2 separate regions of the Homo sapiens genome follow, and region 1 is linked to region 2. The links come from fine-mapping of genetic effects on gene expression. A gene starts in region 2. The other region holds a variant in brackets. All regions are shown on one strand. Distances are from middle to middle.

Evidence for each region. PIP is the estimated chance that this variant, and not a neighbour inherited with it, causes the effect. A credible set is the group of variants that fine-mapping cannot tell apart.
Region 1: its variant is the best candidate, but not a certain one, in a credible set for the expression of MATCAP1 in sun-exposed skin (GTEx, PIP 0.75).

Annotation. Positions count from the first base shown.
Region 1 is chr16:67,288,001-67,293,364 of GRCh38, forward strand. It overlaps PLEKHG4 (pleckstrin homology and RhoGEF domain containing G4), which reads left to right. Exons shown (of 22, transcript NM_001129729.3): 19 at 1-14; 20 at 167-400; 21 at 489-604; 22 at 803-1,480. The coding sequence ends at 808. KCTD19 (potassium channel tetramerization domain containing 19) reads right to left here. Exons shown (of 16, transcript NM_001100915.3): 13 at 3,646-3,837; 14 at 3,309-3,463; 15 at 2,885-2,986; 16 at 1,432-1,682. The coding sequence ends at 1,569. Among named protein-coding and RNA genes, the nearest start is that of PLEKHG4, 11 kb to the left of the region's middle. The variant C/T (reference allele first, on the strand shown) is at 2,232.
Region 2 is chr16:67,180,698-67,186,061 of GRCh38, forward strand. It overlaps MATCAP1 (microtubule associated tyrosine carboxypeptidase 1), which reads right to left and starts at 3,266. Exons shown (of 7, transcript NM_001040715.2): 1 at 2,565-3,266. It overlaps EXOC3L1 (exocyst complex component 3 like 1), which reads right to left. Exons shown (of 14, transcript NM_178516.4): 10 at 4,664-4,793; 11 at 4,439-4,561; 12 at 4,205-4,360; 13 at 3,989-4,113; 14 at 3,682-3,907. The coding sequence ends at 3,697. RefSeq lists an enhancer at 4,685-4,784.

The sequences.
Region 1 (5,364 bases), 110 kb after region 2:
CCTGAAGTGCCGAGGTAGCAGGCAGGCTACAGGGTGTGGGGGTGGGAGTAGGAAAGCTGTGCGGGAAGCACTGTGGCCCTCCATTAGTGCTGGCCCGCACTTTCCTTGGGATCTGGGGCCAGGCTAGGCTCTGGCCTGTCCCAACCTGACCCTCTCTCTTATGCAGAAGTTCGCTCTCGGGCGTCCATTGCCGTAGCCCCGTTTGACCATGACAGCCTCTACCTGGGGGCCTCGAACTCCCTTCCTGGAGACCCTGCCTCTTGCTCTGTTCTGGGGTCCCTCAACCTGCACCTGTACAGAGACCCAGCTCTTCTGGGTCTCCGCTGTCCCCTGTATCCCAGCTTCCCAGAGGAAGCAGCACTGGAGGCTGAGGCAGAGCTGGGCGGCCAGCCCTCTTTGAGTATGTCTGGGCCTAGCCAGAGGCAGGAGGGCATGGCTTGGGGTCTGGGGCTTCCCGTGCTGACAGTTCACCCAGTCTCCCTCCCTAGCTGCTGAGGACTCAGAGATCTCGTCCCAATGCCCATCAGCCAGTGGCTCCAGTGGCTCTGACAGCAGCTGTGTGTCAGGGCAGGCCCTGGGTAGGGGCCTGGAGGACTTACCCTGTGTGAGTGCCATTTGCCCTATACCCACCAGCCCTTCCCCAGCCCAAGCTGAGCCTGTGACTGTGACCAGCCCCTCCCCAGCCCAGGCTAGGCCTTTACTTTGGGTAGAGCTTGGGGTGGGTGGGCCAGAGCCATTCCCCAGACACCTCCTGGGTCCAGAGTCAGGGAAGCAGGCATTCATGCCTGGCCTGGCCCTGCAGGTCTGAGCCCGGGACTGGACGAGCAGTAGATCCAGCAGCCTGCAGCTCCAAGGAACATTGCCTCTCTGGATCTGCTGTGACCAGGGTGTGGCTGACACCTGGGCTACCTCCAACCTACATGTGCAACGCTGTTGACTACCCTTTCTGATGTGTGTGGCCATTGGACTAACTGGCACGGGGCCTCTCTAGGGAAGTCTGGTTGTAGAGCCTGAATAGGCTCCTGGCCCCATGACCCCTTCTCCTGTCCCCAGCTCCCATCCCAGTTGTGGGTTAAGAATAGGCTAGAGCAGACATTGGGTGTTTCCATGCTGTAGGCTGGTGGGGGACCATGTGCCTCTAGGCAGTGACTAGGGTGCCCCCACCCCTCAGGAAGAACACAGGTGGGCTCCTAGCAGCTGATCCCCAATGCCTGGCCTTAAAGCCGAGCTCAGTTACCATAGGGACAGGTCCACCTCTACTGGGCCCTCATGCTTGCCTTTCCTGGCCCCCAGGCCCAGCCCCTTTTTACTGGGGCAGTTTCGTTATTTTGACTTGATGCCTTTTGAATAACTTTCAATAGAATTGTCTAAAATTATCTTACTGGTTGTTAGGCCTTTGGTGTCTCAGAGAAGGAGTCTAGGTCTTTGATGTGTGATTTAATCTTTTATTTGTTTATAATAAAAAATAGACTGATATGTACCCTCTGATGGGCACATGCATTCTGGGCTATCTCCAATTAAAATGAGACTTGGCGGGTGGGGCATGAGGGGCTGCATCTCTGGGCACCCTAGTCCTCTTGTAGGTACTTTCCCAGGATGGAGTAAGAGACAGACCTAGACAGGCCCCTCTGGATGAGCAGGTCCATGCATCGGCCATATTTCCTGGCGAAGGGCAGTGTAAGCTGGAAGGAAAGGCCAGTCTTATCCCTGATTTCCTGGCCAGTTGTCTACTCTAGCTCCATGTGGGTGGGGTTCTCCCATTGGGGCAGGGACAGGGCAAGCCCGGCTGTTGGGGACTTTTGATGCTCTAGGGCCCAGCTCTGCCCCAGGGCATCTCACAGGGTGGGGCTAGAAATGGCTATCAGGGAACAAAGCAGAAAGACCGGAGGTTCAAAAATCTGTTTCCTGCTACTGGTTTTCTGCTTTTTAGCCATACATGCTGACTTCACCTTTACAAACCACATATGAGCCAGATGCCTAATGGTAACTGGGTACTAGAGGGCTTGTGGTGAAAGGTGTTATAATAATGCTCTTGATTATAGAAGTGTCAGATCAATGAGAAACTGCCTAAATCGTTTCGGCCTCAATGTTAAAATTAGATTAAGGAATCAGAAAAGGAAAAAGAAAAAAACCCTTGATCATTCCTTTGCCCTTACTGAATATTTTCTTTTTTTTTTTTTTTTTTTTTTTTTTTTGAGACGGAGTCTCGCTCTGTCACCCAGGCTGGAGTG[C/T]AGTGGCACGATCTCGGCTCACTACAAGCTCCGCCTCCCGGGTTTACGCCATTCTCCTGCCTCAGCCTCCTGAGTAGCTGGGACTACAGGCGCCCACCACCACGCCTGGCTAATTTTTTTGTGTTTTCAGTAGAGACGGGGTTTCACTGTGTTAGCCAGGATGGTCTCGATCTCCTGACCTCATGATCCACCCGCCTCGGCCTCCCAAAGTGCTGGGATTACAGGCGTGAGCCACCGCGCCCGGCCTAAGAATGCTTAAAAGTAGTTTAGAAATGAAAGGAATGTACACAATTGGTGACATCGTGGCCAGATAGGTGAAGCTGGTATCACTGGTTGAAAAGGCCTCACTCCCATATGAGTCAAAGCTTGGGCTCATATGATATGTGTCCCTAAGTGTGGCCAGGGTTGTTAGTGATGAAGGCACAGCTGGTATCATTGGAGGAAAACTGTAAAAACCAGTGGCCTGAATACTGCTTTTGGACTACTCTGGATTGGTTAATTTCATGCAGTTTCTCCCTCCCTGGGAGCAGTGGCCTAAGCTGCCTGTCTAGCCTTCTGGGCAGTGCTGGCCCAGCCCTGGTGCAGCAAGACACACGTCCATCTGAGGCATCCACAGGGTCGGTGGATTCCCAGGGATTGCAAGTGGCCCTCACCTCCACCCAGCTGTACAGGCGCTCCTGGGTGTGCCGGTCATCCTTGAAGCCGGTGATGGCCAGCAAATCTACCACAAACTGCTTGGGGCTGATGTGCAGGGTCTGCCAGGAGAGCCCACAGTCAGGCAGTGCTAGGGCAGCTCCTAGCCCCTCAGAGTGAGATGCAGAGCGGGGACTTCTCTGGGCCCACAGAGCCACAGGGGTAGGGGGCGGGCACTGTCACTGCAAATCTGCCTCTTGGCCGAGGCTCAGTCCAGGTGCAACTGCTCTGCTTGCCTCCCTGTCCCACCACTCTTCTGGCCCTGGCCTTCTCCTTAACCCCATCTTGGCTTACTTCCTCTTGCCTTGCACCACTTATTGTGGGGCAGGGGAAGAGGTGGAGAAGGTACAGGGTGCCCCAGGGCCTGAGGCCTGTCACACATACCCACAGCCGATTGGCCAGGGAGACCACCTTGGCTGTGATGGCTTTGGGGTCCTTTTGCCTGATGGAATCCATGATGATGTCAGCCAGGAAGCAGTGACATTTCTGTGCATAAAACATCTCTTCCCAGGACAGAGAGAAACTCAGGAAAGTCACTTCTGTGGAGGAGGGAAAGTGGATGTGGCCACATCTGTCAATAGCTAGGGCCTTAGAGACAGTGTGAGGAGGGGGAGAGGGGTAGGGCCCCCAGGGGCCACTGTCTCTGCCTGAAGTACCCTGGGAGGGGGCTCAGGCATCCTCACGAGGAGGCGCAGGGCTCGGCCTGGCTCCAGAGCCTCACCTTGGGGCTGGGGACTGGCTGTGGGTGTTGTGTGCCTGAGGTTGTCCATCTCCGTGGTATAGATGATGCTGTCCTCAAAGAACATGCAGAAGCCATCGCTGCCCACCACGGGGGGGTGAGTCACTTTGAGGATAACCCCTAGGCTGTCCACCTCACTGGCCTCGGGCAGAGGCTGCTCAGGGGCAGGGCTTTCTGTGAAAACAACATAGGGAGGGGGCTCTCCTTTTAAAAAAAAATTTTTTTTCAAGATAGAGTTTTGCTTTTGTTGCCCAGGCTGGAGTGCAATGGCACAATCTTGGCTCACTGCAACCTCTGCCTCCCAGGTTCCAGCGATTCTCCTGCCTCAGCCTCCTGAGTAGCTGGGATTACAGGCACCTGCCACCACGCCCGGCTAATTTTTGTATTTTTGGTAGAGATGGGGTTTCACCAGGCTGGTCTCGAACTCCTGACCTTAGGTGATCCACCCGCCTCAGCCTCCCAAAGTGCTGGGATTACAGGCGTGAGCCACACGCACAGGCTTTTAAAATTCTTTTCTTCAATTACCATCAAATCTTCATAAGCAGGGACTCTCCTTAAGCCACCTCAGAGCCCAAGCAGGAAGGGGACCTCTGGTGACAGGCCAGTACAATCAAGTCACCCCAGCCTTGCAACAGCTGCCACCTCTAGTTTCTCAGAAGTGACACCCTGGGCTGGCAGGGGCCTGTCCTGGCCACTCCTCTCTTCATTGCCCTGGCATCACTGCAAGCCAAATCCTGAACATTTTGGAACTCGAAGAAACTCCAGATTCCTCTGTTGAACTAAGACGTATCAAATGGGGCTGAGGGCTGGAAATCTTTATAAAATTTTAAGTTGAGAACTTTTGGGGCCAGCCTTTGATGCATGTCCAAAGAGTGGACATTTGTCATCCCAACCTTGACAGACCAACTTAGGGCTCACAGGCAAGAGTCCAAGAAGGCCCCTCCAAGCAGGGCTGGAGCCACTAATAGGGAAGGTGACAATACTGCAGGCAGGGCTTTGAGGGAGCAGAGGCAGCATCCTGGCACAGCGATTTTCAGCACAGTTCCCTGGCCACCTTCCCTTAGCTGGCTACACAAGCTCTCTCTCCAGTTCAGTCCCTGTAGCCCCTGCTGTCTCCTGGGCTTCTCCACCTGGATGTCCCTCGGCATTTCACACTCAGTATGTGCCCTTCCCCAAGCTCTGCTCTTTCTCTTACCCACACCTCAGTAAGGGCCTATCCACCCCCTTGCAGTCCCACAGGCTAGAAACCTGGCTTCTCCTTGGCCCATCCCTCCTTCCCTCCACTACCTGCCTAGCCTGCTTCCCCTAGCCTAGAAAGAACTCCAAGTGGCTTCGAATACCTAGCTCCTGCTGCATTTCCTCTGCTCCTGGAGCAAACTTTCTGATGGGCACACCTGACCCCGTGCTCTTGTCTAAAATCCTTCAGACGCTGCTCACTCCCATCCTGGTCAGAATGGAGTACCACGTCCTGAAGCTGGCCCACGAGGCCTGTCCTTATGACTTCTGTCTTCAGCCTCATCTTTTATCACGTCTGCATGTGAAGCCTGGCCTCCAGCTAGACCCATGCCCTGCGCTTCCAAACATCCTGGACTTCTCCTTCCTTCCCCTGCTGACTCCCCAGCCCTCAGCCTCTTTTGTGCTCCTGCTTCATAGGCACCTCCTTCCCACAGCACTCATCCCTTCGCCGTGTGTGTTCTCCTG
Region 2 (5,364 bases):
CATGAGTGGGTGTGACCAAACGACCAGCAGGCCCTGTACTCCACATTGCCTCTGCTGGGCCCTTGGTGGGCCCAGGCTCTGCTACCAGGGGTCTGATTGGCTGCAGCGTCCATTGCCTCCAGCAGACTCACCCAAATATGCTGGGCCGGAAGAAAGCACTTTTGTTTTCGTTTTTGTTTTTTGAGACAGGGTCTCACTCTGTTGCCCAAGGTGGAGTGCAGTGCAATGATCATAGCTCATTGCAGCCTCCAACTCCTGGCCTGAAGTGATCCTCCCGCCTCAGCCTCCCAAAGTGCTGGAATTAAATGCATGAGCCATCGCACCCAGCCGAAAGCAAGAGTTTTAAACACCCACCTAGGTGGTGGTTACTGGAATCCTCTCAGCCTGAGCTCCTGAAGGCAAGGACTGAGCCCCTTACTCGTGATTCTAATCTCTGTGCTCACTCACTTAATCTGGGAGGTGGTACAGTGCAGCTTCAGCTGCCTGGGCAGATTAGGTAGGTGAGAAGACCTCAGGGACTGCCTTCAGCCTATGGCATCTTCTCAGTGCCACCCCTGCCCATCCACCTGGCTTTACCCATATCCTCCTGCCTATTTGGCCTCAGTCAGTTTCAATGTTTGAGGGCCCCATGCTTACGCCGGTACCCCCCAGAATGCCCTCTCTCCTCTGAGCCATCTGTTGAAATCCAAATTAGAATCTGCTTTTGGGAAGCAGAAGGAAGCTTCAGCAAATCCAAGCCAATCTCTGGCTTGTCCCCTATCTGAGGGATCTTTCCAGTGGTCATCCAAAGCCAGTGTCAGGGCGCTCACCCCGACTCTGTTCCAGGACTCAGTCCAATCCCAACCCTCCCCAGAGACTACCTGGAGAGGCTCCAGCTGCTGAGCTCCCTTGCCTGCTCAGTGACTCACTTCCAGCATTTCTCCTCTCTCCTACATCATCAATCTCTTCCTCTCTACTGGACTCTTTCCATCAGGATAAACACATGCTGTTACTTCTCCATCTTAAAAAACAAAACAAAACCCTCACTAGAACCCACACTCCTCCAGCTACAGCCCCGCTGCATCTCCCTCCACTTGCTCCTATTGCAGCACATACCTCGAGTCATCTATACCCAGTCTCCAGTTCCTTTTTTCCTGTTCTCTCTTAAATTCACTCCAATTAGCCTTTTGTTCCCAGCACTCCATCCAAATTGATCTGATCAAGGTCACCAATGACCAGCAATGACCTTCATATTGATCAGCACCCGATACAGTTAATCACTACCTCCTGGAGGCCAGGCAGGGTGGCTCACGCCTGTAATCCCAGCACTTTGGGAGGCCGAGGCGGGCGGATCACCTGAGGTCGGGAGTTCGAGACCAGCCTGACCAACATGGAGAAACCCCGTCTCTACTAAAATACAAAATTAGCTGGGCGTGGTGGCACATGCCTGTAACCCCAGCTACTCGGGAGGCTGAGGTAGGAGAATCGCTTGAACCCGGGAGGCGGAGTTTGCGGTGAGCCAAGATTGTGCCATGGCACTCCAGCCTGGGCAACAACAGCGAAACTCCATCTCAAAAAAAAAAAAAAAAAAAAAAGTCACTGCCTCCTGGAAACATGCTGTCCACTTGGTTTTCCAAACACAGTCGAACTTAGTTCTCCTCCTACCTTGCTGGTCATCCCTGTCTCCCTGACCTCTTAATACTGTAATGCTCCAGGACTTGCCTATGGAAACTTCTCCATTTACGTTCACTCCCTAGATGTTCTCATCCACTCTTGTGGTTTTACATACATTAGCTCAGACTTCTTCCATAAACTTTAGACCAGTGTTGCCAATTTCAGTGCAATTTGAGATACTGTCTATTTGCCCAGGCTGGTCTTGAATTCCTGGCCTCAAGCAATCTTCCCACCTCAGCCTTCCAACTAGCTGGAACCACAGGCACATGCCATCATGTCCATCTTCACTGCAGTGTCATCACTTGAATGTTTAATAGGCATATCAAACAGAATATGTCCTCTGTCTGGGATGTTCCTCCCCCTGTATAATGGCATGGGTCACTCTCTCACTTTCCTCAAATCTCTGCATCAATACCATGTTATTAGAAAAGCCTAACACACCCTCAATAAAATAGTAAACCTCCTCTCCCCTCTCCACTATCTCCCCTTCCCCAAATTATTGTTCTTTGTAGCAGTCATCACCATCTGGAGTGTACTTCAGTACAGTTTATATTTGTATGATAGGTATATTTGATAGTTATCTGTTTTATCTTTTCCAACATTCACAGCTGTGTCCCCAGAACCCAGAACAGTGCCTGGCCCGCAGCAATTGCTCAATAAATAAATGAATCCAAGAGCTCTTCTTTCAGAACTAGAATTATTCCTTCCCTGCACTTTGCTTCCCTATCTAGACTTCATCTTCCCCCTCTCCACTCCTCTCTACCCTGCCTAATGACCAGCTGCTTGAAAAGACTTCAGGTCCCAGGCTTCACTCCCTTTAACTAACTGTACAGTTTTTTGGACTCCTCACCCCTTTACAGGTTTCTGCTTGGCCCAGTCCCCTCCATCTCCCCTTCTTTCATTCGACATACCTCCTCGAAATTACCAGAATACGCCTGTTTTTTTCACGTCTCGGGTCCTTCCGCCAAGAATGCCTTTGCAATATATTCCTGGAGCAAACTCTTAACCATTCTTCAAGGCTCAGTTTAGGCCTCACTTCCTCCAGGAAGCCTTCCCCGCGTCTAGTGTCCCACTGCTTCGGCGACTTCTTTACTCAGAGCTGTCACTGTTGGAGTCTAGGTCCGTGTCCTCCCACAATCCCCTGAACTCCCCGAAGGCAGGAATGGGGTCTGATTCACCCCCGTGTACCAAGCACCCAGCACTGGGTGCATAATGAATGAAGGATGGATGGGGGAGGAGCCCCCCACTATTAAGGCGGGGTCTAGTGACAAATGAGAGGGTGTGGCCTGTGCGGAGAGAAGCCCCGGAGAGGACAAGGTGAAGAGCCAATGGGGAACCAGAAATAGAGGAGGGGCGTGACCTGCAGCCAATAAGTGGTGGGGGATAAGGTGAAGGGCGTGCCCAATGGAGGGTGGGGCCAGGAGACAATGGAGTGGAGGCTTCTCCGGGAGATCAGGAAAGGTCGCGTCGCGCGCCTCCTCCCGGCCTTTGGGGGGGTCCGTCCGCGTGCCGTGCCCCCACCTGTTAGCTCCTCTGCTCGCCGCCCGCCGCTCCCGCTCTGCTACACCGGCCACCGGACGCCCAGCCGGCGGGAGCCGTCGCCGATGACGTACGTCCTCGGGCGCGCGCACGCTCTTACGAAAGCGTGGGGCTTCGCGTCAGTCTCCGCGGCGGCGCGCCCCCGAGGCCACTGGGAGCGAAGCCAGGCAGGGTTGAGGGGGCGGTGTTCGTGGTCCTGGGCCCGCCCCCTTCCCAAGGCCACAGCGAGTTGCTGGGCTTCAGGGGCTCCAGGCGGCCAGGGCGGCGGAGACTCTTGCTCACGGCCTGGGCGCGGAGACGTGGGGGCGTAGCCCGCGGCCTCGGGAACGCAGTCTGCACAGAGGGCAGATGCCTGCATAGGCGGGGCGCAGCCCGTGTACCAGGACGGGAGCCAGGATACTTTAAGCGTGTCACTCTGCAAGAATTCCCTCAACCCTCGTGGGCACTTTTATTCCATCCCACCTTCCCCAACACACACAGACTCAGGCGTCCGGCAGCCGTGGTTTATTCTGCGAGCAGCAGGGCTCGGGCGCAGGACCCCGAGGGCAGGCAGGAGGCCGGCGCGAGCGCGGGCGCGGGCACTAGGCTGAAGAGGACGCGGCGGCTCGCGCGGGGCGACGGCGGCAGCGCAGCCTGCAGGGAGCTGAGCGCGGCCAGGTGCTGCTCCCGGGACAAGTCCCCGCGCAGGCCCAAGAGGGCGGAGACGTGGTCCTCGCTGCAGGGGCACCAAGGAGGCGCGTCAGCCCCGTCCTCCCCGCCCTCCGGCTTCTCTTCCCTTCTGGCCCCCAGTCCGCACCTCACGTCGGGAAATTGTTGCCGCAGGCCAGCCACCTCCAGGCCCAGCAGCGCGGGGTCGCGGAGGTTTAGCAGCTCCCTCAGGGCGAGCAGCACCGGCGCGCAGTGCGCGTTCTCCTCCAGGCCCTGAGCACGTCGGGGTAGGGTCTCGCGCCAGCCCTCTCTCCCACCCAGCCACTGAGACTCTCGCCCGTCTGCCCGCCCAAGAAGCTCTCACCAAACTGAGGAAAAGCTGCTGAAGCTGGGCAGCATCGTGCCGCAGGCGCTCGGCCGCCTGGGTCCTCTCGTCGGCTCCGCGGCACACCAGGCGGCCTTGCATCAGCGCGCTCAGGTACTGGAGCACCACGGCACGCTCGGCCTCAGCCAGCAGCAGCTGCGGGGAGGCAATCAGGCGGGTGCAGGTCGCCTCTCACCCGCGCCGCCCCTTCCCCAATCTTTTCCCCCAACCCACCTGAACCGTGGGGTTCCGCACGCGCCAGAAGTCCCGGCAGAAGCGCCCCGTCCGTTCACACACACTTTGCAGGAGCTCAGGGCTCGACAGCCATTGGCGCGAGGGCAGATCCGCGAACAGGGGCTGGGGAAATGATCCAGATCTGGCATTGCCGCGGAGACCCCCATACGTAGCTGTACCGCCACCTCTCCACCTGCTCCCATCCTGACCTGAAGGAGGCCTCACCTGGAGCTCCGCCTGCAGCGCCTCCAACACCAAGCGGTAGATCCTCCTCTGCAACTCGTCCAGCGCAGCTTCCACTGGAGCCAAGGCCCCTGAAGGCGCCCCGTCCAGCTGCAGGACAGACACTGAGGAGCTGGACCAAGCAAAACTACGGCTTCAGGACCAAGGCCAAGGCCCGCATGGCCCTCGGTGGTCCAGACCCTCCGGCGCCACCTTGTGGGGCAAGTGTTTGACGGGAGGGAGCGAGAACAGCGGCTCTCTGCACTTCTGGTCCCAGGCATGGACCAGGGCTGGGAGACGGGCGCTTGGCGAGCTGCAAAGGACACAGCCCAGCGAGACCTGCCTCAAATTCGCGGTGCGTCCTTGAGGAAAACATTCTTTCGGTTTCTGTTTCCTCATTCGTAAAGGAAGGGAAGTATCCCAGTGAGGAGGGAGTAAAAAATCATCACTTGTTTTCCTTGCCCCCACCAAAAAGAACATACCACCCAAGAGGAAGGGAGTGTGTGTGTGTGTGCGTGTATACACACAGCTGTAACCCCAGACATTACTGGCACAGAGTAGGGCCTTGAAATATTTGCTGGACGAATGAACAATTGACACCATGTGCCAGGCACTATGGTGGCCACTTTACATGTTATCTCATGTGATTCTCAGAACATTCCATTAGTACCCCCATAATACTAATGAGAAAAGTGAGATTCACA